Linked DNA regions of Homo sapiens. The protein of the gene in region 3 interacts with the protein of the main gene of each other region in a biochemical or structural test. Each region holds a gene or a part of one and is shown on either strand. Other genes may lie near its edges. The genes, in order: HTRA1, UBE2E1, XIAP, TCF25, UBE2D2, PTEN and UBE2D1.

What was found.
Region 1: the proteins of XIAP (region 3) and HTRA1 form a complex in vitro, tested with the Homo sapiens proteins (2 studies listed by BioGRID and IntAct, with this or other methods).
Region 2: the proteins of XIAP (region 3) and UBE2E1 form a complex in vitro, tested with the Homo sapiens proteins (one study listed by BioGRID).
Region 4: the proteins of XIAP (region 3) and TCF25 form a complex in vitro, tested with the Homo sapiens proteins (one study listed by BioGRID).
Region 5: the proteins of XIAP (region 3) and UBE2D2 form a complex in vitro, tested with the Homo sapiens proteins (6 studies listed by BioGRID).
Region 6: of the proteins of XIAP (region 3) and PTEN, one has a biochemical effect on the other in vitro, tested with the Homo sapiens proteins (2 studies listed by BioGRID).
Region 7: the proteins of XIAP (region 3) and UBE2D1 form a complex in vitro, tested with the Homo sapiens proteins (8 studies listed by BioGRID and IntAct).

The regions. Positions count from the first base shown.
Region 1 is NC_000010.11:122,489,053-122,492,552, reverse strand, and holds part of HTRA1 (serine protease HTRA1 precursor), read right to left. Parts: intron 3,132-3,500; coding exon 2,927-3,131; intron 1-2,926. UniProt on the Homo sapiens protein: Serine protease with a variety of targets, including extracellular matrix proteins such as fibronectin. HTRA1-generated fibronectin fragments further induce synovial cells to up-regulate MMP1 and MMP3 production.
Region 2 is NC_000003.12:23,812,455-23,815,954, reverse strand, and holds part of UBE2E1 (ubiquitin-conjugating enzyme E2 E1), read right to left. Parts: intron 1-3,500. UniProt on the Homo sapiens protein: Accepts ubiquitin from the E1 complex and catalyzes its covalent attachment to other proteins. Catalyzes the covalent attachment of ISG15 to other proteins. Mediates the selective degradation of short-lived and abnormal proteins.
Region 3 is NC_000023.11:123,884,053-123,887,552, reverse strand, and holds part of XIAP (E3 ubiquitin-protein ligase XIAP), read right to left. Parts: intron 1,923-3,500; 5' UTR 1,891-1,922; coding exon 1,014-1,890; intron 1-1,013.
Region 4 is NC_000016.10:89,897,592-89,901,091, reverse strand, and holds part of TCF25 (ribosome quality control complex subunit TCF25), read right to left. Parts: intron 2,536-3,500; coding exon 2,443-2,535; intron 2,326-2,442; coding exon 2,220-2,325; intron 458-2,219; coding exon 298-457; intron 1-297. UniProt on the Homo sapiens protein: Component of the ribosome quality control complex (RQC), a ribosome-associated complex that mediates ubiquitination and extraction of incompletely synthesized nascent chains for proteasomal degradation.
Region 5 is NC_000005.10:139,613,339-139,616,838, reverse strand, and holds part of UBE2D2 (ubiquitin-conjugating enzyme E2 D2), read right to left. Parts: intron 2,254-3,500; coding exon 2,222-2,253; intron 2,143-2,221; coding exon 2,065-2,142; intron 1,979-2,064; coding exon 1,873-1,978; intron 1-1,872.
Region 6 is NC_000010.11:87,866,625-87,870,124, reverse strand, and holds part of PTEN (phosphatidylinositol 3,4,5-trisphosphate 3-phosphatase and dual-specificity protein phosphatase PTEN), read right to left. Parts: intron 1-3,500. UniProt on the Homo sapiens protein: Dual-specificity protein phosphatase, dephosphorylating tyrosine-, serine- and threonine-phosphorylated proteins.
Region 7 is NC_000010.11:58,341,506-58,345,005, reverse strand, and holds part of UBE2D1 (ubiquitin-conjugating enzyme E2 D1), read right to left. Parts: intron 1-3,500.

The DNA.
Region 1 (3,500 bases), on a different chromosome or scaffold from region 3:
AGACCAGCCTGGCCAACATGGCAAAACCCGGTCTCTACTAAAAATACAAAAAGTAGCCAGGCATGGTGGTGCACGCCTGTAGTCCCAGCCACTCAGGAGGCTGAGGCAGGAGAATCACTTGAGTCCTGGAGGTGGAGGTTGCAGTGAGCGGAGATGGCGCCACTGCACTCCAGCCTGGGCAACAGTAAAACTCTGTCTCAAAACATAAAAATAAAATGAAATAAACATGTTTATGAAGGACAACGGGGGCCCCTCCAAGTGAAATCAGGATGCCAGGGGAGGAGCTGGGCCCAGATGATAAGCCACCGAGTTAGTCACTGGGCCCACGGACGCGGCAGGCAGTCTCACCAGCTTCACTGGGTTACTCTTAAATGGCTTTGCAGGAGGCTGGGCCACAGTCTCATATGACAAGGAGCCGTGTAGGTGATTTTCATTCCTCAAGCACAGTTTCTGCTGGTTCTGTTCTGCCTTCTCGGTTTTCCTGATCTCTTTCATCCTCTTTGTTATCCCTAAGATGACACAAAGCAAGGCCAGCCAGAGCTTCCCCCGAAATAACCCATCATCAAAACAAGGGAACAAAAGAGAAAAAGCTGGAAGAGATGCTGTTACTCTCCCTACTTTCAACTACTATCAGCAAAAAAAAGCAGTTTAGTCAGTGGAAACCAGTCTTTTGTGTGGGTGTCTGCAATTTAATATCCTTTCATTTCCAATTCCATTTTGAAAAGCCACATCAGTTCAATTTTAAATTTCAAGCACCCTTTCTTGGGGGGCTTGAAACACATGTCAAACAGCATGCTGCTGGCTGAAGAGCTAAACTCCCAAGACAGCAGGAGTCAGGTCAGACACACTCTGCAAAGCTCGTCTATTGAGATCGTTCACGTCTTGCCAGGACATGCCAGGGATGGCACGAGGAGACAGTCTCCACCTTGGCTCAAAATTGGAAAAGAATATCCCCCGGCCAGAAGCAGCCGCACGGTATGTGCCCACGCATTCCAAACACGAAGTTACGCAGTGGGGGCGGCGTCCAGGCCAGCGCCTCGCCTGCACACAGCCCATGCCCTGCTGCTGGCTGCCTCCCAAAGCTCCATGAGGCTGAACAGGTCCCACGCGTGGCCACAGGCTGTGCTATTCTGACTGGCTCCTTCCGGTGAGACTACCACATCCTGGATACCTTTCTAGCAGCCTGTTCCTAAACCAGATGCACCCGCCTTCCCATGGGCTGTTTAAGGTCAAGCTGTCCCATCAAACCACGGGGCCGGCCTCTATCCCTCCAGCAGTAGCCATGGGCTGCCTTAGGAGGGCAGGGTCATGAGGTGTTTGCTGTGTGGCCTCACACAGGTTACTAGACTTCTCTGAGCCCCTGTTTCTTCTTCTCTAAAATGGGGATAACACAGCTATTATGCAGATTAGGTGAAAAAGAATGAAGGCAGAGGCTGGCCCAATAATCCTGTGACCAATAAACACACTTTGAAAGATTAGTTGTCGCTAGAAATTCCACAGTGACCTAATAGAAATAACACACAACTGCAGCCTCACTCAAGGCCAGTTACACACACCGGGCACAGAGCCTATATCTACCCAGAGCCTCTTCGGCCATGCCTGGCCACCCAGCCATAGAGAAGCTACAGGAACATCGGGGAAGGAGGGTAGTAAATGTGTTAGCTGGTGGTTTTCTGAAGACTGGCCGTAAAGGAGCCTGAGCTGGGCAGCAACTTGATGTTATAAAAAGACGGAGAAGGAGACCCGGAATCCTACCACCCAAACAGCACACGCAGAGTTGTTTCCAGAAGGAGGTGTAACCAGCGTGCCACTGAACAGCACAAACAGCCAGATTAATTCCACGCTTGTCTGGAATTACTCAGCCCACACCCAGGTAAAGCGAGGCAAGCAGAGGGCTGGACAAGAGACCCCACCTGGCTCAGCCTCTGGTCTTTTCCTTGGTCAGAGGCAGGATTCCAGCCTCCTCTGATTGTTCCCTCCATCTGAAGTCTAGAAAATTATAAGGATGTGAAGAAACTGGAAACCACGCTTTCACTGAACATGCCACACAGCAAACAAAACCTCTCTCATCGACGTGTCGAGTGGGGGTTTTTGATGAGTCAGTAAGAAATGGATATTGTCCCAGACATGAAGACTTTGCTAAGCAAATCAACAGAGCAAAAATGATTGCAAAGAGAATATTTAAATAGAAAGCATTTTCAAATACAGCATTTCCCAAACTGATTTTGGTATGTCTCAGTTCTGCCTGCCCCCACAAAAAGCTGTATACTCAAATGATTATAATTTGGGCAAATAGTTCAGTCAACACCCTTTTGTAGGCAAGCCACGTGCACACTAGCATACTAAAAGCTCTGAGAAGGTCTGGAAAGAAGAAATCCATTAGCTCTGTTTTAATTCAAGTTTTCCAAGATGTTTAAAGTACGAAACATTCTTTTGAAACACATCTCATAACCCCGCAAAACCCCAATTTGGGAGAGCTGGTTTGTTTTCAAAGTAACTGTTGACAAGTTAAGGATGGCTCAGTCTAAAACCCAGTAAATTCTATGTTCATTGTGAACGCATGATGTATCTGTGGAGGATAAATAAAATCTGTAACAAGAGTTGCCACAGGATTGGGAATGGGAAGGAGAATCAATTTTCACTACTTACCTACTAATTTCTTTACAAATCTATTGCTTTCTTTGACAAACATTTAAAACATTATTTTAAAAACTTTTATCTGGCTCCTTACAGAAGTTTTCCTGAGCCCCTTCCTCTCCCACACCCCCAGGCCATACTCAGCATCTCCTCAAGGCCCTCCTGTGACTGGCTCAGACTGGCTTCAGTGCCCCCCGAGAATCAGCTGCAATCAGAGAGCTCTGGTGCCTTTGCCAAGGGTGTTCCGGGGCATCTGAGAACTCACCTCTGCAGGCGAGAACACCCTTACCTGGTGGTCAATTTTGATGAGTGCGATGTCTGCTTTCTCATCCACATCCTTGATTTTGGCTTCGTAAGTGGCACCGTTCTTCAGCTCAACTTTGACCCGGTGCTTGTTGGTCACCACGTGGGCATTTGTCACGATCAGTCCATCTTCCGACACAATAAACCCAGACCCACTAGCCACCGGCACCTCTCGTTTAGAAAACGGAAGCCTAAAATCCAAAGGAGTACACACTTAAGCCTGTAGCACCTTAAAATGAACGCTTCAACGCATTGATTAATGGGTTGTGCAACAGCCACACACACCTAGCCATCGCTCCTTTATATATCGGGCTTAGCATTTAAACACTAAACATCCTGCCAATTTTTTGCATGCATCAAAAACTTCCACTTACAAAATATTCTTAGAGAATCTCTTCAGAGCCCGAGGTTCTTTAAACATTCAGAAGGGTCAAGAATGTAGATTTATATAGTCGAATAGGGAAAATGTTCTAAGGGAGACACACTTATCTTAAGTAGGAAGATATTCAGTGACACTTTGACACTTTAATGTATCTCAAAAATAGCTCTCATGTTTTGCT
Region 2 (3,500 bases), on a different chromosome or scaffold from region 3:
TGAAACCCCAGTCTCCTGGTTGTCACAATTTTTCAACACTGCCTTTACATGCATAAAGGTATACACACTGCAATGGTGAAACTAAACATCATTCAGATGTTTAAGTCACACTTCTATCCTTAACGCATTTAGTAACATCAGATAAATGAAAGATGCTAAAAGGAAGAATACTTTTTAGCACATAAGATACAGGGTTTTATAAAGGATGACTTCTGCTGAACCTATTTCTTATACCCAAACAACCATTTAAAACATGCTGAACCTGGACGAGGTATGTAACACTCCACTGTTGCAAGAAAAGGATCTCTTTCCATTGTGAACCATGATGAGCAGCCTGGGACTTCTGAACTGACATCTCATTACCATTACCACCAATTCGAGGAGGTATTGGAATGCCAGAAAAACACAATGTAAATTCACAGAAACTACGTGGAAGTATACAAAGTGCTAACTTGGAGCATCTGTGTGCAAGGAGCAGGATCAGAAGAGGTCATCAGGACTATCTTTTGCCTTTTACTCCACAAACTTCTGTATTTGAATTTTTCAAAAACATGCATTCTTGTATAATATAATGGCTTAAAACTATTTAAAATATAGGCAGTGTTAGGGAAAAAAAAGCTATCAAAAGAAGGCTAAATGGAAATTCTGTCACATACAGAAAAACTAGTATCAGGGCCAGGCACCATGGCTCACGCCTGTAATCCCAGCACTCTGGAAGGGCAAAGTGGGTGGACGGCTTGAGGCCAGGAGTTTAAGATCAGCCTGGCCAATAGGTAAAACCTGGTCTCTACAAAAAAATACAAAAAATTAACCGAGTGTAGTGTCGAACGCCTGTAGTTCCTGCTACTTGGGGGCCTGAAGCAGGAGGACAGCTTAAGCCCAGGAGGTCAAGGCTGCAGTGAGCACCACTGCACTCCAGCCTGGGTGACAAAATGAGACCCTGTCTCAAAAAAAAAGTGAGAAAGAAAGAAATGTATTTTTATTATTCTCACCCATGCTTGAAGTGTTTAATGACTTTTCAGACATTTTATCCTAAAATAGCACCCCATCTGAATTTCTAGGTTAAGTCACTGAGACATTTACTCATGAAACAAATATATCCATTAAATAAAATCTGAAGTTTAAAGGACTTAGGCAAAATATGCCATTTAGTCTGTATAGACATACTGTCTACAGATATTCGTGTCTACAGGCTAGTTATAACTAGTCAATTTAGCAAAGTTTGAGCCCTGGGCTATAAATAACAGCTGCAAAACTGACTCTGGTGGCCCAGAGTTCATCAGCTATCTAAAAGGCATAATTTTACAATCTAAGATCTGGCACGCTTTAGGGAATCATTACAAAGTTAACATATTTTTTTCCCTAAAAGAATAGAGCTAAATGATATGGGAATAAAAGCCTAACCAAAATGAAGAGTGAGTTGGGAAACTATTTTGTGTGTGTGTGTATGCATATATATACACACACACACAAATCACAGATACTAAAATTAAGAATTTGATTTCTATGGCAACATAAAGCAGTTTGAAAATACTTACTTAAAATGACTTTGGACCAGGTCATTGAACACAATCTGTACTGTGTTCTAAAAAATATCCACCCAACATAATATACAACATTAAGAATTTAATTTTATGTTTTCATACATTATAACATATTGAGCAATTGCATTTCACATAAGTTTTGATGCTCAGTAACTTCAAATATTTTTGCCAAGTGCCAAAATTAGTGAACACAAACAGTGCACCTTCCTTCAAGAGGAGCAATTCTACTGATTTGCAATAATCAACTTTTTTTTTTGAGACAGGGTCTCACTCTGTCGCCCAGGCTGGAGTGCATCACCATGCCCGGCTAATTTTTGTATTTACTGAGAAGTTACTATGTGCCAAGTGCCATATTTTAATAACGTGTTTAAAACTACACACTGAATGCTGACTGAAGAAAGGAAGTATGGCAAAGGGTAAAAATATAAGACAGACTAATTGAAAACCAATTATTTAACTCATTCAAATCTCATGCTTTCATGCTGAGGGTAATTTTAAACATGTACGCACTTAATATATCACTTAATTCATAGATTTTCATTGGACGCTGACTTCAAAAAGTATCCCCAAGGCCAGGTGCAGTGGCTCACGCCCGTAACCCCAGCACTTTGGGAGGCCAAGGCGGGCAGATCACAAGGTCAGGAGTTCAAGACCTGCCTGGCCAACATGGTGAAACCCCATCTCTACCCAAAATACAAAAATTAGCTGGGCATGGTGGCACGTGCCTATAATCCCAGCTACTCAGGAGGCAGGAGAATTGCTTGAACCAGGACCCGGGAGGTGGAGGTTGCAATGAGCCGAAATCATGCCACTGCACTCCAGCCTGGGCTACAGAGCAAGACTCCGTCTCAAAAAGAAAATAAATAAATAAATAAATAAATAATCCATCTTTATCTCCAATAAAGTACATTAAAATACTAAATAATTAAATTCCAAAAGGTAACAGCACAAAACGTAAAACCGAACTCTTTTAAGAGAGCTGAATATTGGGACTACTATATAACATTAAGACAGCACCATTAGCCAACCAAAAGTAAAAATTTTAATTCACATTACTCAAACGGCCCCACTGGAAAATATCTTCAGAAAATAAAGTCATCTTTATTGTTAAAAGACAATGTAATATACATTCTCTTGCAAAATGAAGATGCCTCGTATTTTCTCTCAAATCAGAGATTTTTCTTAAAATTTAGTATTTTGAGCTTTGACTCCGTAACACCAATCACCCAACAGCCACCCAGTTTGGTGCATCCCCTGACCACAGGTAATTCCCAAACGTTTCACCTTGAAGGGGTAATTGGGAGGGTTTCCCAAAGATAAAAAAGTTCCACATGCCTCAGGAGCATAAATCTTTCACACATAAACTCAGTTAAAACGATGTGAAACTGAAGTGTACTTACACTGTTTTTTTTTTTTAAATGCTTAATCCCATGAAAATCTTCAAATGGTTTACAATTTTAGATTTGACTGTGCTTATTCACAAGAAAGCCATTATATGTTTTAATCAATGTTATTAATAACACACACATAGGAGACACACAATACCAAGCAGGAGCAATAACTAGACAGCACAGAACCACCTTGGGGAATGTACATGGATTCCACACAAACAACCAAGGGAAGCTACAGGCTTCCACGTGAACCACCACCATCAAAATAATGAGTTAGGCCTAAGTCTTATGGTTTTTCCACTTCTCAACCATCTTGAGAGATTATTAGCCAGGAAAGAATTCCCCAGAATGATTAAGTGTTCCAATTATAAACTATAGTTTAAGAGCATTTCAAACTCAAAATGACTTTCCTTACAAAACAGGACAAAGTTTCACGGAAGAGCATCCCACACCTAATCAACATTAAGAATGAATGTAACCAAAACGGCAATAGTTTTGTATTTAATCCACTAATTAGTTTCCAAAGTTCACTGTTACTAAACAAAATACTTCATTTAGCTTTTCA
Region 3 (3,500 bases):
TGACACTAAACAAACCTTCAAGATTACTATATGATGGTACATAAATAAAATCTTTCGAAATAACCAATATTTTATAGGCATTATTCAATCTTAAAATAAATGGGTCAAATATATAATGGTATAACTTTTTAAAATATCTTTAGAAGCAATCACTCCAATGGCCCTTCCTGAAATGTCTACCACAGTCCATTTGAAAGTACTCATATGGCCGGCGCAGTGGCTCATGCCTGTAATCCCAGCACTTTGGGAGGCCAAGGCGGGCGGATCACAAGGTCAGGAGTTCGAGACCAGCCTGGCCATGGTGAAACCCTGTCTCTACTAAAAGTACAAAAATTAGCCAGGCATGGTGCATGCACCTGTAATCCCAGCACTTTGGGAGGCCGAGGCGGGTGGATCACCTGAGGTCAGGAGTTTGAGACCAGCCTGACCAACAGGGAGAGACCCTGTGTCTACTAAAAATACAAAATTAGCCGGGCGTGGTGGCACATGCCTGTAATCCCAGCTACTCAGGAGGCTGAGGCAGGAGAATCGCTTGAACCCGGGAGGTGGAGGTTGTGGTGAGCCTAAATCACGCCATTGCACTCCAGCCTGGATAACAAGAGCGAAACTCTGTCTCAAAAACAAACAAACAAAGCTATTGTGAAGCTTAGAGAAAATGCATGAAGTATATGTATTGAGCACTTATAGTAAGTGCTCAATAAATGATGGTTAATATTACTATTAGACCCATTTTGCTATTGGGGATGTCTACCATCTTTTGCAAGTTATCTACTTCCTAAAAACAATTACATGAAGAGAAGCATGACTCATAATATGGTAGTCTTTTTCACATAAATTCAGTAGTTACATTACAGGTTCAACATAAGAGTTCACGGAATAATACAGATATATATATAATCATGCCAAGTTATACCTAAATATTTACCAGTTCAGGGGGCTAAGGGCATCTATTTACTTTTTATGAGCCCTGGCATACTTGGGAAGCTATTTATTGGTTTTATAATAAAGTTTACCTAAAGCATAAAATCCAGCTCTTGCAAGCTGCTCCTTGTTAACTGAGTATATCCATGTCCCAAAAGTAAAGATCCGTGCTTCATAATCTGCCATGGATGGATTTCTTGGAAGATTTGTTGAATTTGGGAAATTCCTATCAGAACTCACAGCATCAGATTCACTTCGAATATTAAGATTCCGGCCCAAAACAAAGAAGCAATTAGGAAAGTGTCGCCTGTGTTCTGACCAGGCACGATCACAAGGTTCCCAATTTTTCAGTTTTCCACCACAACAAAAGCACTGCACTTGGTCACCAATACCTGTGTAGTAGAGTCCAGCACTTGCTAACTCTCTTGGGGTTAGGTGAGCATAGTCTGGCCAGTTCTGAAAGGACTTTAATCTAGCTTCTTCACTATACATGGCAGGGTTCCTCGGGTATATGGTGTCTGATATATCTACAACCTGCCCAGTTCTCAAAAGATAGTCTGCATGTGTCTCAGATGGCCTGTCTAAGGCAAAATGATCTCTGCTTCCCAGATAGTTTTCAACTTTGTACTGACCATTCTGGATACCAGAATTTGTAGACTGCGTGGCACTATTTTCAAGATAAAAGCCGTTGATAAATCTGCAATTTGGGGATACTTTCCTGTGTCTTCCAACTGCTGAGTCTCCATATTGCCATCTATCTACAGCTGCATGACAACTAAAGCACCGCACGGTATCTCCTTCACCAGTATAAAGAAACCCTGCTCGTGCCAGTGTTGATGCTGAAACAGGACTACCACTTGGAAAATTAGCAAAAGTTTTTAATCTATTAAACTCTTCTACAAATTCTTCTTCCTTATTGATGTCTGCAGGTACACAAGTTTTAGATCCTTCAAAACTGTTAAAAGTCATCTTCTCTTGAAAATAGGACTTGTCCACCTTTTCTAAAAAGAGAACATTATATTAGGAAATCCAAAATGTGAAACACAAGCAACAGACTTTTGTTATAGGAGCTAACAAATTATCCACTTATGACATAAAAATAACTACACGACCGCTAAGAAACATTCTAATTCTAAATACTAGAGTTCGACATTACCACATCATTCAAGTCATAAAGTAAAATCTAGCATTTTTGTTTTCTCTTTTTGAGGAAAGTAATATTTAAGCAGGCAGAATAAAACTAATAATTTTTAAATGCTTATTTTACATAAATATGTAAACTGTGATGCAGAATATATTATAATTATTAACCATGTCAAATCATTAATTAGGAAAAACATGAAAGCATAAAATATGCAGATTATTAAAATCTATGCATAATTGTTATAATGAATCATTATATATTCAAGGCATCAAAGTTGTTTTTACAAGTTAAAAAATGTTCAGAATGTTAATGAATTAATTTTTAATATCTCTTTGCTTAGCAAAATATGTTTTAATCATAATATTGGTTCCAATGTGTTCTTTAAGAGTATGAAATATTTCTGATTTTCATGCATGAATGAGAGCCCTTTTTTTGTTGTAACTGGATAATTACAGATATATATGTAACACTGCCCTCTAGAGGGTGGCTCAGGAAAAATTCTAAGTACCTGCAAACCTTAATTGCTGTTACTTTTTTTTTTTTGCCCATGACATACATGTGCCCTGCAGTTACTTTTGCTATTAACTTCCCTTGGTCAAGTAACAATCTGTTCAAATGGAAGATAAGTATTGCTGCAGTCTTATTAGAGCTGCCAAATTACAGCTGGTAATTTTAACCCAGATAAAATACTAAAAGGAACCCGTTAGGTTATGAGAAGGGTATCAATTATTAGAAAGATAATTTATCCTCCAAACCTGGACACTTCTCAAAGTGAAAAATTACACTAGTAATAATCACACTGGGACAACAGGCATAAATCAGGGTTGCCCCAGGCAAACTAGAGTATATGGTAACCCTAGTTATGAGGCAAACCTGGTTCTCCAGAATCTCCCACATTGCCTGATAACATGCTCAATATAAACTTGTCAAAGGCAAAATAAGAGAATGGTAACAATGACTCTGTCTCTATATTATGCGTGCATTAATTGATTTTTTTTTTTTTTGAGATGGAGTTTTGCTCTTGCTGCCCAGGCTGGAGTGCAATGGTGTGATACTGGTTCATGCGACCTCCGCCTCCCAGGTTCAAGCAATTATCCTGCCTCAGCCTCTCAAGTAGCTGGGATTACAGGCATGCGCCACCATGCCCGGCTAATTTTGTATTTTTTAGTAGAGACGGGGTTTCTCCAGGTTGGTCAGGCTGGTCTTGAACTCCTGACCTCAGGTGATCTGCCCGCCTCGGCCTTCCAAAATGCTGGGATTACAGGCGTGAGCCACCGCGCCCTGCCATTAATTGATTTCTTGAGAAGAATTAGCCAGCTCTTTTGCCTTTATGTTGACACAATATGCCTTAAAATTTAATCTCTTTTGGAGTAATGTTCAACACAAAGCAAGCTGGCAATGGACTTCAGTCTTTCCTGGCCATGTCAATTTATAG
Region 4 (3,500 bases), on a different chromosome or scaffold from region 3:
GGTACAATCCAATGCCCCGCACCTCCCAGCCAGTTCTGTCTCTGCACTCTAGAACACAGGCCCCACGGGGGTCGGGATGCCTGCCACCTCCTCGTGCCTGGCTTGGCACGCAGCGGGTTCCGAGATGAGCCGACCCTCTTTCAGGTTTGGTAGGGCAGGTTTGCAGGCCCTACCAGAGAATGCATGTTTCTACAAGTGTGGGGAAGGACTGGGACCTGGCCTCCACCACCAGGAAGAGCAGCCCCCACGGCTGACAGGACACACCCCTACCCCAGGCGAGACACAGCGCTCACTCACCTCCAGGGAACATGGTGAGCGCCTGCTGTATCAGGAGAGAGGCCTTCTGCCTGGCAGAGCTCTGCTCACACTCAGGGAGGTCTGTCTGCTGGCTCAGCAGGAAATACGCCAGTGGAACAGAGAAGGCAAAATTAGGGAGCTGGGACAGGTTCCGATGAGCCTACGAGGGACGAAGAAACAGAGCGTGGAGCCTTAAGTCATAAAGACAAAATATGTGAGTTTGCAGACGCTCTGACATCACCAGTGAGCCCTACCCCGAGCAGGTATATTCTGCAGGCAACGCAAGGGCCTCTTCCTAACTCAGCATAAAGATAACTTAAAACGTCCACCTGGGGGGCTTTCCGCATGCAGAAGATACAGAGGACGTGGGAGGGCCTGAGAAGTAGACTGAGCCGGAGCGAGGACACCGTGGGGAGTGAGGGTCCCACCTGCCGCCCAGGCTCCTCTCTGAAGCTGAGCAGTTGGTGCTCTCAATGTGGAAAATTTACAGACGAGAGCAGCCCACCCCCGCGCGAGTCTGTGAGAGCAGCCCACTGCCGCGCGAGTTTCCGAGAGCAGCCCGCCACGCGAGTTTCCGAGCAGTCTACCACCGTGCCAGTTTCTCTTGCCTTTCTCAGCCTATGTCACATATTGTAGACATGTGACTCACTGCATTTTTTTCTATCAAAATGGGATCACAGACTCACAGTTTTGTGACCTTAAACACCATCATCAACATTCTTCTGCAGCCCCATTTTGGGGGACTCCCTGAGGTTTCCCTGCACCTACATTTTTGTGAGCTCCAGGAATTTCTATAAACCACATTCCTGGGGGTGAGACTTCCTGGCCAACTATGCCAAATGCTTAAAAATTCAAAATAATTTACCCACTTTCATTATCCATGAACATGTGCTATGAAAAAAATTCAACACAGAAGCAGAGAAAGTCAAGAGCTGTCGCCTTCTCCCCAGCCCCAGGCCCTGCTGGAGGTTAGCGTTACAAAGCCCGTGTCCTTCCAGATAAGTGCTGCCCCATAGGAACATAATGGGAGCCCAGGTGTCAATTTAAATTTTCTTTTTTTTTTTTTGAGACGGAGTTTCACTCTGGTTGCCCAGACTGGAGTGCAATGGCGCGATCTCGGCTCACCGCAACCTCCACCTCCCAGGTTCAAGCGATTCTCCTGCCTCAGCCTCCCGAGTAGCTGGGATTACAGGCATGCACCACCACGCCCAGCTAATTTTGTATTTTTAGTAGAGACAGGGTTTCTCCATGTTGAGGCTGGTATCAAACTCCTGACCTCAGGTGATCCGCCCGCCTCGGCCTCCCAAAGTGCTGGGATTACAGGCGTGAGCCACCATGCCCGGCCCAATTTAAATTTTCTGGGAGCTGCATTAAAGACAAAACAGGTGAGATTAATACGTTATATCTAACCCAATACACCGAAATTATCATTCCAACACGTGTCTGTGTTAGAGTTACTGGGGACAGAGCTCAAGTCTCTCCTGCTGTACTCACACTCTTCCCATGGAACAGGACAGACGTGCTGGGGGTCCCTGTGTCAGCCCCACGCAACCAACCCTCCTTCTACCTCCCGGCTGCATCTTCCTGAACTGCCCATGAGGAGCTCGGGAGTTGTCGGTTTTTCATCATTACCAGCATCACAGTCCTTGCAGGCACACGTGTGCATGTGTACACACGTTTGAGCATGTGTACACACGTATGAGGATTCTGACATAAGGCTGCTGTACTGTCCCTAGGAAAACCACATTCCACTCCGTAGAGGCGGCAAGGGAGACAAACAAGGCAGGAGGACGTGGTTCTGCCCTCAGACGATTATCGTTTCATCCCCAAACGTCCCCTGAGCGCACAGATACTGAACCAAGAAAACAGAAGGAGAAGCAGGTGTCCGTCCCTCCACGGGGCCTCACCAGGCTCGCACCCACCTCCCACTCCTGGAAGAGGCGGATCAGGTACTCGTAGTTCCGGGCCCGCAAGGCCAGGTGGTCGATGAGCAGCAGCATGCAGAGGGGGTCCTCATCCGGCTCGAGACTTCCGGAGGCAGCACAGAGAGCAGAGCAAAGGGGAACAGGGGCATCGTCAGGCTGAGAGTGGGCCTGCAGCCAGGACAGGGAGCGTGGACGGGCTTGGCCCTGAGCAGACACTCACCTCAGGATGAGCTTGCAGTACTCCAGCGCCGTGCGCGGGCAGCCTCGCTTCTCCAGGAAGCTCATCTGCTTGTAGAGGGCCAGGTAGAAGCTCCTAGATCCAAAATAGTTCCACATGAATTACAACGACACAAAGGAGAATGCTCTCTGCTCAGCGCCCCGGCCAGCACCCACTCCACCCCGCCCTCTGCTCAGCGTCCTGGCCAGTACCACCCATTCCACCCCACACACTGCTCAGCGCCCCAGTCAACACCCGCTCCACCCCACACACTGCTCAGCGCCCCAGTCAACACCCGCTCCACCCCACACACTGCTCAGCGCCCCAGTCAGCACCCGCTCCACCCCACACACTGCTTAGCGCCCCGGTCAGCACCCGCTCCACCCCCATTCTGCTCTCTGGGTTCTGCTGGCATTTTCTACGTGCCCAGCACACAGAGATCCATGTCTGGAGAGGAGGTGTGCGCTCTCCTTGTCCTTTACAGAGTTATACACGAATTTGCATACTGAAAATCAAACTTCTTTGAAATCTTTTTTTTTTTTTTGAGACGGAGTCTCGCTCTGTCACCCAGGCTGGAGTGCAGTGGCGCTATCTCGGCTCGGCTCATTGCAAGCTCCGCCTCCTGGGTTCATGCCATTCTCCTGCCTCAGCCTCTCCAAGTAGCTGAGACTACAGGCACCCGCCACCACACCCAGCTGATTTTTTGTATTTTTAGTAGAGACGGGGTTTCACCGTGGTCTCGATCTCCTGATCTTGTGATCCACCTGCCTCGGTCTCCCAAAGTGCTGAGATTACAAGCGTGAGCCACCACGCCCCGCTGAAATCTTTATCTTGTTTTTTTGTTTATTATTTATCATTTACAGGAAGAGAGTTAAAATCTCTTGTTACAATTACGATCTTAATTTATCCTCCAATCTCAACAGTGGCTAACAGCACTCAGGCTGGATACATGGAGCCCTGTGACTTTCGGATGCTGGTGGGCTGCTACTTCCATCAACAGCCCACTGTCTCTTTCGCGTCGGGAAATATTAATATTTTATAATCTACTTCAAAGAACTAAG
Region 5 (3,500 bases), on a different chromosome or scaffold from region 3:
TAACCTCCAATTTTCAGAACTAAATCACAATGTCACAAATGTACTTGTATACAAAGTTTTTTCAGCATTTGGGATTGTTTTCTTAGTATAAATAAATGAAACTAGAATTATTGGGTGAATGGGCATGGATGATTAAGTCTCTTAACACATACTGGCAGACTGGGCTCTACAAATCTATACCTCTACTTGAAGAATATGAGTGTTCATTTCAATGTACCTCATTAGTGTTTTGTCTTCTTTTAAAAATATCTTTGTTAATTAAAAAGGTAAAAAATAGGAACGTAACATTCATTTATTTATTCTTTGGTTCCCCTGTGTCCATTCATCTATTGGGATCTGAATTTTTTTCTGATTTTTGTACTTCATATTTTAAACATATTAATCCATTACCATATTTGATTTTTCTCTTAAACAACTGATTTCATTTTCACAAAAGTACATCCAGTGAACTCTTTTATCACCTTTCAGAGTACAGCAGTGAGATCTGATAAATATTCTTGTTTTTGAGACGGAGTCTCGCTCTGTCCCCCAGGCTGGCCAGGCTGGAGTGCAGTGGCGCAATCTCAGCTCACTGCAACCTCCGCCTCCTGGGTTCAAGCGATTCTCCTGCCTCGGCCTCCCAAAGTGCTGGGATTACAGGCGTGAGCCACCGTGCCAGGCCATAAATACTTGTTTTTGTTTTCCTTTATAAATTCTAGATTATTTGGCTGGGCACGGTGGCTCATGCCTGTAATCCCAGCGCTTTGGGAGGCCGAGGCAGGTGGATCATAAGGTCAGGCGTTCGAGACCAGCCTGGCCAACATGGCGAAACCCAGTCTCTACTAAAAATACAAAAATTAGCTAGGCGTGGTGGCGGGTGCCTGTAATCCCAGCTACAAGGGAGGCTGAGGCAGGAGAATTGCTTGAACCCGGGAGGTGGAGGTTTCAATGAGCCAAGATTGCACCACTGCAGTCTAGCCTGGGCGACAGAGTGAGACTCCATCTCAAAAAAAAAAAAAAAAAAAAAAAATCTAGATTATTGTAACGCAACTGTGATTTCATCTGGGAATAATGTTGAAGGGTTGTACAATTTCAAATCAACACATTAAGACAACAACTACATCACTCAGTTCATTGATACAGAAACCTAAAGACAAGAGCTGGTAAAATATTTACCTATATTTTGTTCTTCAAGAACCTAACGTCTATGTTTACAGCATAGGCATTTGTCTAAAGGGCTGGTCTATTTCCTATTCTGCAATAGTATCTATCTTTTTCCATTCATGAATCTCAAGGTTGGAAGAGATGTTAATTGTGCTCTACTTTATGCTCTAAAAAAACATTCATACCAGTGTCCATCTTCTTTTTTTTTTTTGAGACAGAGTCTCGCTCTGTTGCCCAGGCTGGAGTGCAGTGGCACAATCTCTGCTCACTGAAACCTCTGCCTCCCGGGTTCACACCATTCTCCTGCCTCAGCCTCCCGAGTAGCTGGGACTACAGGCACCTGCCACCATGCCCAGCTAATTTTTTTGTATTTTTAGTAGAGACGGGGTTTCACCATGTTAGCCAGGATGGTCTCGATCTGCTGACCTTGTGATCTGCCCGCCTCGGCCTCCCAAAGTGCTGAGATTACAGGCATGAGCCACGGCACCAGGCCCAGTGTTCATCTTCTAACCTATGCTAGAGTAGCACAACTGACAGACTAGTCACTACACCAAGGAATACTTTTGCTTGAAAAATCCAACTCGTTTTCAGTTCTCAAGGTCCATTTCAGATTAAGAAGAATTGCTATCTCTTCTTAAAAGAAACATAAGTAATCTTTTCAAAAATAAATAACTCTAAAAAGACAAAAGACACGGTTGCTTTATCTTGATATCAAATACCCACTGTTACCTTTTGAAATAGTTAGTGCTGGAGACCACTGTGATCGTAGAATATCAAGACAAATGCTGCCATTACTGTTAATATTTGGATGATAAATTCTTGTTGTAAATGCAACCTACAGAAAGAAAGGAAACTTTCTGTAAACTAGTTTATTAGTATTATAGAAAGTACATTAAAAACTGCCACATTCCAATTAATTACCTTAGGTGGTTTGAAGGGGTAATCTGTTGGGAAATGAATTGTCAAGAAAAATACTCCACCCTGATAGGGACTGTCATTCTGTTGATAACAAGAAAAGTGGGATTAAAATGAGTAAATTACATAAACTGTTTATTCTGAAATTAATCTGAATACTTACTGGCCCCATTATTGTAGCTTGCCAATGGAACACTGAAAAATAACAAGAAAAAAGTCACCATGTAACAATATCTACATTGTATCTACGCCATAGTAACATATCATTCCCCTTCTAATCCAAATTCATTTATAAATAATATGATAATGAGTATGAGCAAGATGAGGAACATAAATTAACAGTCTAAAGAAACAAGAAAAATGACTAGAATGGCCTAGAACACTGATAAGGTGCTCAATGAAAAATATTTAGAGCCAGGTGTGGTGGCTCACACCTGTAATCCCAACACTTCCAGAAGCTGAGGTGAGAGGACTGCTTGAGCCTGAGAAGTGGAGGCTGCAATGAGCCATGACTGCGCCACTGCAAGACTCTCTCAAAAACAAAAACAAAAAAAACCGAAAGTATTTGGGCTAAAACTTCTTGAAACTTCATGTCAGGTAGACAAACTTCTTGACAAGGCTTACAGTTCTACTTTTAAACAGTTATTTCTTTACCTCACAGGGTAAATCATTTCTTCAAAACAATTACATATAATACACTTTTTTTTTTTTTTTTTTTTGAGACAGAGTCTCACTCTATCGCCCAGGCTGGAGTGCGCTGGCGCAATTTCGGCTCATTGCAACCCCCGCCTCCCGGGTTCAAGCAATTCTCCTGCCTCAGCCTCCCAAGTAGCTGGGACTACAGGCAAGTGCCACCACACCTGGCTAATTTTTGTATTTTTAGTAGAGACAAGGTTTTGCCACGTTTGGCCAGGTCTCAAACTCCTGACCTCAGATGATCCACCCACCTCAGCCTCCCAAAGCTGGAATTACAGGCATGACTCCTTTTATAATGCTGGTATACGGGGGACAAAACAGTAAAGTCAAGGTAGATAATACTCAAATTAAGAAAGACTGGTTTTAACAAGGAGAAAAAATTTCTAAAAACTCTTGTGTAGGTCTGTACATTACTGGCCCTCATTAAAGAAAGAAAAACATCTCTCCTAATGTAAAGGATAAGTTAAAGAGGAAAAAAGAGAAAAAAGGAGTAAAATTTAAGAAGAAAATATTAGCTGAAAGCCCAAGGTTGATTACAAGCTCCAGGGATACTTCTAATAAGTTATAAACTTGTTCAATAAATAAATATCTTCCAAATGCAGAAAATGATGCTTGTTCCATGTTCTCATGCTACTAAGTGCATCATGAGAGATCAAAAGCCAGAGTTTTTACTTATAATTAAGCTACTACTTAGCACACTTACCATTCATACTATGATCTGAGCAACCTAAGGGAAGTTGTCACTG
Region 6 (3,500 bases), on a different chromosome or scaffold from region 3:
ATGCTAAATGAAATTACTTATTATTATCTCACTTACTATTCAAGATAAACGTATGCGGTAGGTTCCATTATCATCCCCATTTTACAGATAAAATAGATTGAGAAAATCTAAATAACCTACTCAAAGTCATCCAGCTACTAAATGGAAGATCCAGGATTACAAAACAAGCAGTCTGGCTCCAGAGCCCACACTGCCTCCCTAAAATCTAAAATGAAACAATGTATATATGCTTAAAAGTATAGATAAACGTAATACTCAAAATTTTAACATAATTTAAAATAGATCTGACCATATTTAAAAACTATAGAACAATATTCTCTAAGGTAGTCTTTTCTTTAAAGAAACAAAAATTCGTTTTTTAATAAATATTAAGATAAAAGGTTTGCTAACTTTGTATACACATACACACACAGAGAAATCAAACACTGGTTAGATTCACTGTTCATATTTGAAGTGGTGAGTACTGATAATAATTATGTGTATAATTACTTAAAATATAATGTGTAAACAGTCTTCTTTTTCACACTATGTGGAGGTCAAGAAAATTCTTTTGATGGCAGGTACAGCTACAATATCCATCTCTCAATATTCTCAACACTGGCCAGGCGCAGTGGCTCACGCCTGTAATCCCAGCATTTTGGGAGGCCGAGGCAGGCGGATCACTTGAGGTCTGGAGTTTGAGACCAGCCTGGCCAAGGTGGTAAAACCCCATCTCTACTAAAAGTACAAAAACTATCTGGGCGTGGTGGCATGCACCTATAATCCCAGCTGCTTGGGAGGTTCAGGCAGGAGAATCGCCTGAACCTGGGAGGCAGAGGTTCCAGTGAGCCGAGATCCTGCCACTGCACCCCAGACTGGGCGATAGAGCGAGATTCCATCTCAAAAAAAAAAAAAAAAAAAAAAAAATTCTCAACACTGCCAAAAAGTAATGCCTTGAAGATGTCCTAATACCTTGAAGATGTTCACACATGTCCCAATGTCAACTGTTGCAAATGAAGAATCTGCCTTAACTATACAGAACTAAAACTTCCCAAATAAAATTAATTCACCCTTAAATTATGTTACTCTTCTTATATTTGCCGATACTTATTTATTCCAGTGCAAATTATTTTAAAAGAATTAAATTGCTAATACTTCCTCTGCAACCAATGAAAAAAATTCAAAAAACTAAGGGAAAGGTGAATAGTCAAGTACAATATACTAATTTCACCTTTCTTGGCAAATTATTTTACATTAGTGAATGCATATACTCAATATGTACAAAGAGAATCACCAAACACAGACCAATATACTTTTAACCACCTATGGAAGAACGTATATGTGGCAGTAATGCACCCTATAAAAGACTTACAGTTATCAGTTTGCTCAGCAAAGCCTTACCAATTTAAGGTTAGTCTAACCTCAACATTATTCTCTCTGATAAGCAACTAAATTAATTTCAAAGCTACCAAATAGAAAGCAATTGTAAAACAGAACTGACTGACCCCAGTCTCACAAATTTCCTAAGTCACTATCTTCAGAACAAATCCTAACATCTTTTCTTAATGAATTCAGGCCACAAGATGAATTCTTCAATGCTGACTGTGAAAATCAAGTTTAACAGAAAAAATGAAGAAAAAGGTAACAAGATTAAGAACTAATGGGTTCCATGTAATAAAACTTCTGAACTGTTTGTTTAACCCAACGGTTTCTACAGAAAAAAAAAAATACATTTCTTAAGCTATGTTAATATTACATTTTCTGGAAGCTAAATCCTTGTAGTATGGCAGAGGCCTCACATTTCAATTAAGCAGAAAATTGTCATATGCATGCAACACTTCTACAATTCTCTTTACAAACTCTGAAGTCACACACAATATCAATAATAAAAGTGATTTCCTAAGCTTTCGTCTTACTTAAAAGATTGAGATGAAAATTTAAAAATAGCACGTTTACTTCAAGTGAATTAATGTTAAAACTTTGTGAAGTGAATTTCCCATAACAAATACTCCTCCATTAAAAGTCACTGAAGTGATTACTTCAGAAGCGGCTTAAAATATTTTTTTAAGTGTTGCGCTATCACCAAATGAACAAACAGCAAATGGAGGCAAATTTCAAAATAACATTAGAAAATAAGAATTGAAGACTTCTTCACTTCCAAAAAGTAAGCCATTTCATAACACTAAGAAGTTTATGTATTTTATGTGGCTATGAGAAAGCAGATGCACTGTTCCATACAAAAATTAAAATATCACCAGTTGCCTTTCCCATGTTATTAAAAATAAAATTCTAAAAAGGTAATAAAGGAATCTTTCTTTACTATCTTCTAAAACTAAGTTTAAAATGAAGGTGGTTATACCTCACCATATTTTATTATCTTTAATCATTTAGTATTTACTTAGTATATTATAAGCAATGTAAATCTGCATTGATGACTATACTGCTGTGCAAACTTTTACACTGGCAGCAATAAAATTCCTTTTTCCTCATATAAACTGTACATTACTCCTTTCAGTTGTGCTTTACACTTGAATAAGCACTATGAAAAATGAAGTTTGTAAGTTATCATACAGCAATTAGGTGGTCCAGTCATGTTTTTCAGGAAATATAACTTAGCAGATACAAAACAATGTAAAATAAATGTTGTGAATAGAATACTTTTTAAAACCCTCATGATTAATTTCAGTAATCACTTACCTTGAGGTAATTTAGGTAACTTCAATAGTCACTGTACTCTCTACAAGTTAAAAGTATTCCCTGTGAACATTTATTTGAAAAGAGGCAAATCTACCAAACAATAAAAATACAACAGAAGCCTAACGTTTCCACATACCCTAAATACACTTAATTTTTCTATAGTCTCAAATTCAGCACTATATTTCAGACTAATATTAAGCATATAACCCTACTAACAAATTTTTAGAATAATTTAATTTTGCGATAATATTTTAAAACTGAATTATTGTCCTCAATTTTCCTCGGAGAAATGGCTTCATTATTAATCTTTCTTTATCAGATAAAAATACTCCAATCACTACTTTCATAAAGGAATTTAACTTTTCACAGGTTAGTTACTGAAATAAATACTACAACATGTCAAAGACAAAGTCTTCAATGACAATTTTAATGCCTTCCCACTCCAATAAACAGAAAACATTAACGTGAAAACAAGCAAACCAAGTACGTTGGAATATCAAAATTATTGGGAGTGCAATTATCAAAAAAGCAAGCACTTCACTGACTTTCCTTACTGACTTTTTTTCATATCAACTTTTGGCTCAATAAAACCACAACTCTAGAAATTAAGTGTTATTAGTCATTTGACGCAATATTTGATACTGCTTTCTATGCATATCATAACTAAAAGTACAGTTTTAGAGAAAGTTTTAAGTCACACAAATTTCATGTGTAGAGACCAACATACGCTGAAATCAAAGAAAATGCCAGTCATGTCACAGCTCACATGTAAAAACCTGGTAAAATAATTTTAAGGTCTTAATAACCCTGATAATTTAAAATCA
Region 7 (3,500 bases), on a different chromosome or scaffold from region 3:
GTAGACCCAGCTACTCAGGGGGCTGAGACATGAGAATCCCCTAAACGCAGGAGGTGGAGGTTGCAGTGAGCTGAGATCATGCCACTGCAGTCCAGCCTGGGTGACAGAGCCAGACTTTGTCATTAAAAAAAAAAAAAACAAAAAAACTATTACCTATAAGGCAGCTGTGCAGCTGTGTATGGCAGTTGTCTAAATATGTGGATAAAACAATCTTAAGTACAAAAGCTAACAAATAGAGAAAAGCTAAATGGAATTAGAGAACCACGTTATGTTACCAGTGCAATAATAGAAATACATTTTATTTGCATCATAAATAATTGCTCTTTAGTTAGAGAATAAGATTTATTGACCTTATACATTAAGAGATGTCAACATTTATTTCAAATCTGATATTTCAAAGTAAATGGAATTTTAAGTCAAGTCTAATATAGCTCCATAGCACAGTGCCAAAGCTCAGTGTTTGTTTTTGTGATCACTGTTGTTTGCTGCAAAAAAAAAAACAGCAAATACATTATTTAGGTTTGCCTAAAATTATGATTCAGAAGAGATGACAGAAAGTATCAAGTTCAATCCATTAAGTTTCCAAGTGAGGAGTATAAAGACTGAGTCTCCTGGCCAAGGTCACAAAGCCAAACTAGGACAAAGGGACAGACCATCTGACTTCTACTCCAGCACTCTTCCCACCCCAATTCAATACTCACCTCAACACTGTAACAGCTAGAGCACATTATTTTCAACCAACACTGAAGCAAACAATGCTCCAGTACTGTATTAAGGCCATTTGCACATTTTTAGCTATGCTCCAGAGAAACAAAAGTGTGATAAGTGAAGGAATGAGAAGGAATTCTTATCTTTTCTCAGGAGCTTATATCATATAAAAGGTTAGAAACGAATACTATTTCATAAGCTTTCAGGAGCGTTGTGTTTAAAGACACTCTGAGAGTCAAGAAAAACTTTACAGGAAATTATACACAACTTAAATAAATAGAATTTTCACATAAAATATGCAAATGGAGCATTTTGAGTGCTCCATTATCAAAACTTACTATTTACTTTACAGTAACCAAAAAAAGATGGAAGAAAAAAGAGAGAAAACCTAGCTGCCTATTTATTAAAACGTGTGTAAAACATGAACATGCCTACCAATACCTACCAAATATTTGTTATTAAATATTGCTTCTTACAGCTCTATACCTAATAACTGGCATATAGTGGGCACTTGAGTGTTTCATAATAAATTCTCTACTCTCTGTTAGTATCATCCAGTATTATTCTTGAATATTATGGTTGTACATCAGTCACTAAAATGCTGCTACTTGTAGAAGAAAACAATGCATACGGTCTGTATCAAATGCAAACGTTTCCAAGGCTAGAACAGTTTACATTATGTGTATATGTGTATCAATATATTTGTGTGTCTCTGTGTATGTGTATATGTATTCATTTGCTCTCCCTATATATGTATACATGTATATGTATGGTTGTATGGCATGTATTTTTAACATTAATTTTACCTAAGGATCTTATGTTATGGAACAGTGATTTTCCAGCTTTCCTTACAGCAATTTATAATATGAAAAAGATTTTACATTACAACCTAGTACACACACACACACTAAAACAAATTTCATGAAACAACACCCTTACTATATGCAAAGCACTAATATTTTCTATTCCATTTTAAAAAGTGGATGTTTATTATTCACTAAACTGTTTGGAAACTCATAAAAGAGAAAAAAAAAGATACTGGGAAGGTGTACACCTTAGTTTGGCATCCATTTCTTAGAAATAACCTACAGTCAATAGATACCAACTGGAAAATACCAAAATGAAGTCTACAAACTATTAACCATCATTCATTCAAAAGTGCTGTTGAGCACCTGAAAAGGCTGGGTCATAAAACAAGTCCCCACTTGGGAGGCTAAGGCAGGTGGATCACCTGAGGTCAGAAGTTTAAGACCAGCCTGACCAACATGGTGAAACCTTGTCTCTACTAAAAATACAAAAAATTAGCTGGGTGTGGTGGTGGGCGCCTGTAATCCCAGCTACTTGGGAGACTGAGGCAGGAGAATTGCTTGAACCCAGGAAGCAGAGGTTGCAGTGAGCCGAGATCGCGCCACTGTACTCCAGCCTGGGCGACAAGAGCAAACTTCATCTCAAAAAAAAAAAAACAAAAAAAAAACCAAAAAAAACAAGTACCCACAATTTAAAAGGAGTCAAATAATAATAGAATTTGTTCTCTGACCATAATGGAATTAGAAATCAACAACAGAAAGCTATCTGTAAAATCTCCAAACATATGGCAAATAAATAACGTATTTCTAAATAATCCAAGGGTCAAAGAAGAGATAAAAAGGAAAACTAGAAAATATCTTTAAATTTAAGTGAAAACAAAATACAGCAAAATTTGGGAGAAGCAAAAACACAAGCCAGAGATTTCCTGGTTTAAGAGAAGAGAAGAAAAATGAACCCAGACCATTTGTTAGGTCCACTTGGTTTTCTCTAGACAATCCAACCATACTACTCCCAAACTCTGCTCGCATAAGGAGGGTGGCCACCTAGAATGAGAACAATCAGATTATTATCTGAGGAAGCTTAAGGTGAAGGAACCAACTCCTCAGCTCACCCCCACTGGAGAAGTTTCTTAAGTCTGAAAAAAAACCCAGGAATCTAAATAAGAACTGTGGTGTCACTAAAAGAGATGAGCCATACAAACGGGACCATATGAATAGAGGACAGTGGGAAATACATCCAGAAAGAGGTAAGACAAGAGGATGCAGAGCATGATGGTGGAATGGACAGCACTAGACTGTATGCTTCTAGATAGCAGCTTCCTCCCCATACTAAGGACAATCCTGGAACACAACAGCCTGTTATTGTCTAATGTGTGAAACTGAACCTTCACAGATTCATCTCAGAACCAAATTAAGCACAGAAAAACCTTAGCTTCTCAGAGACCATCAAGACCAAGATGGGCCAGAAATAAAACCTGTCCTGCCTTCAGACACATGTGCTAAGGTGGCCTGAGGACCTACCCCTCCAATTCCCAAACTGCAAATATGGTCATATTATATATTCTAGTATCATTTATTCCAGCATTTCACAGGAGAGGAGAGAGGATAAGTATCTCAATTCCTGTTGTTAATTCAATGTAATCAGTTTATTCACTATTAAAAAGGCAGGGACTATTACATTAGTAGATGACCATTAACTCAGTTTTATGGCTAAATATTAGGTTTATCATTTCTATTAGTAGCACTCATTAAATGAAAATAAAGGGCCCATATGTTTTCTATGCGTATTTCAGGGAACTAAAGCGAGTAAGGACGCTATTTTGCTTTCCTGGAGGCAATCCCACATCCTGCTAGGTTTGGTTTTCATATGTGCCTGGCTTCTTAAAATAGGCATAAACAGCTTTATTTAGTTCTAGGCTATTTATTTCCACAGAGAAGAAATCTCAGAACTTTTTAACTGTCATAGGTTACCTCATTTTTTTATAC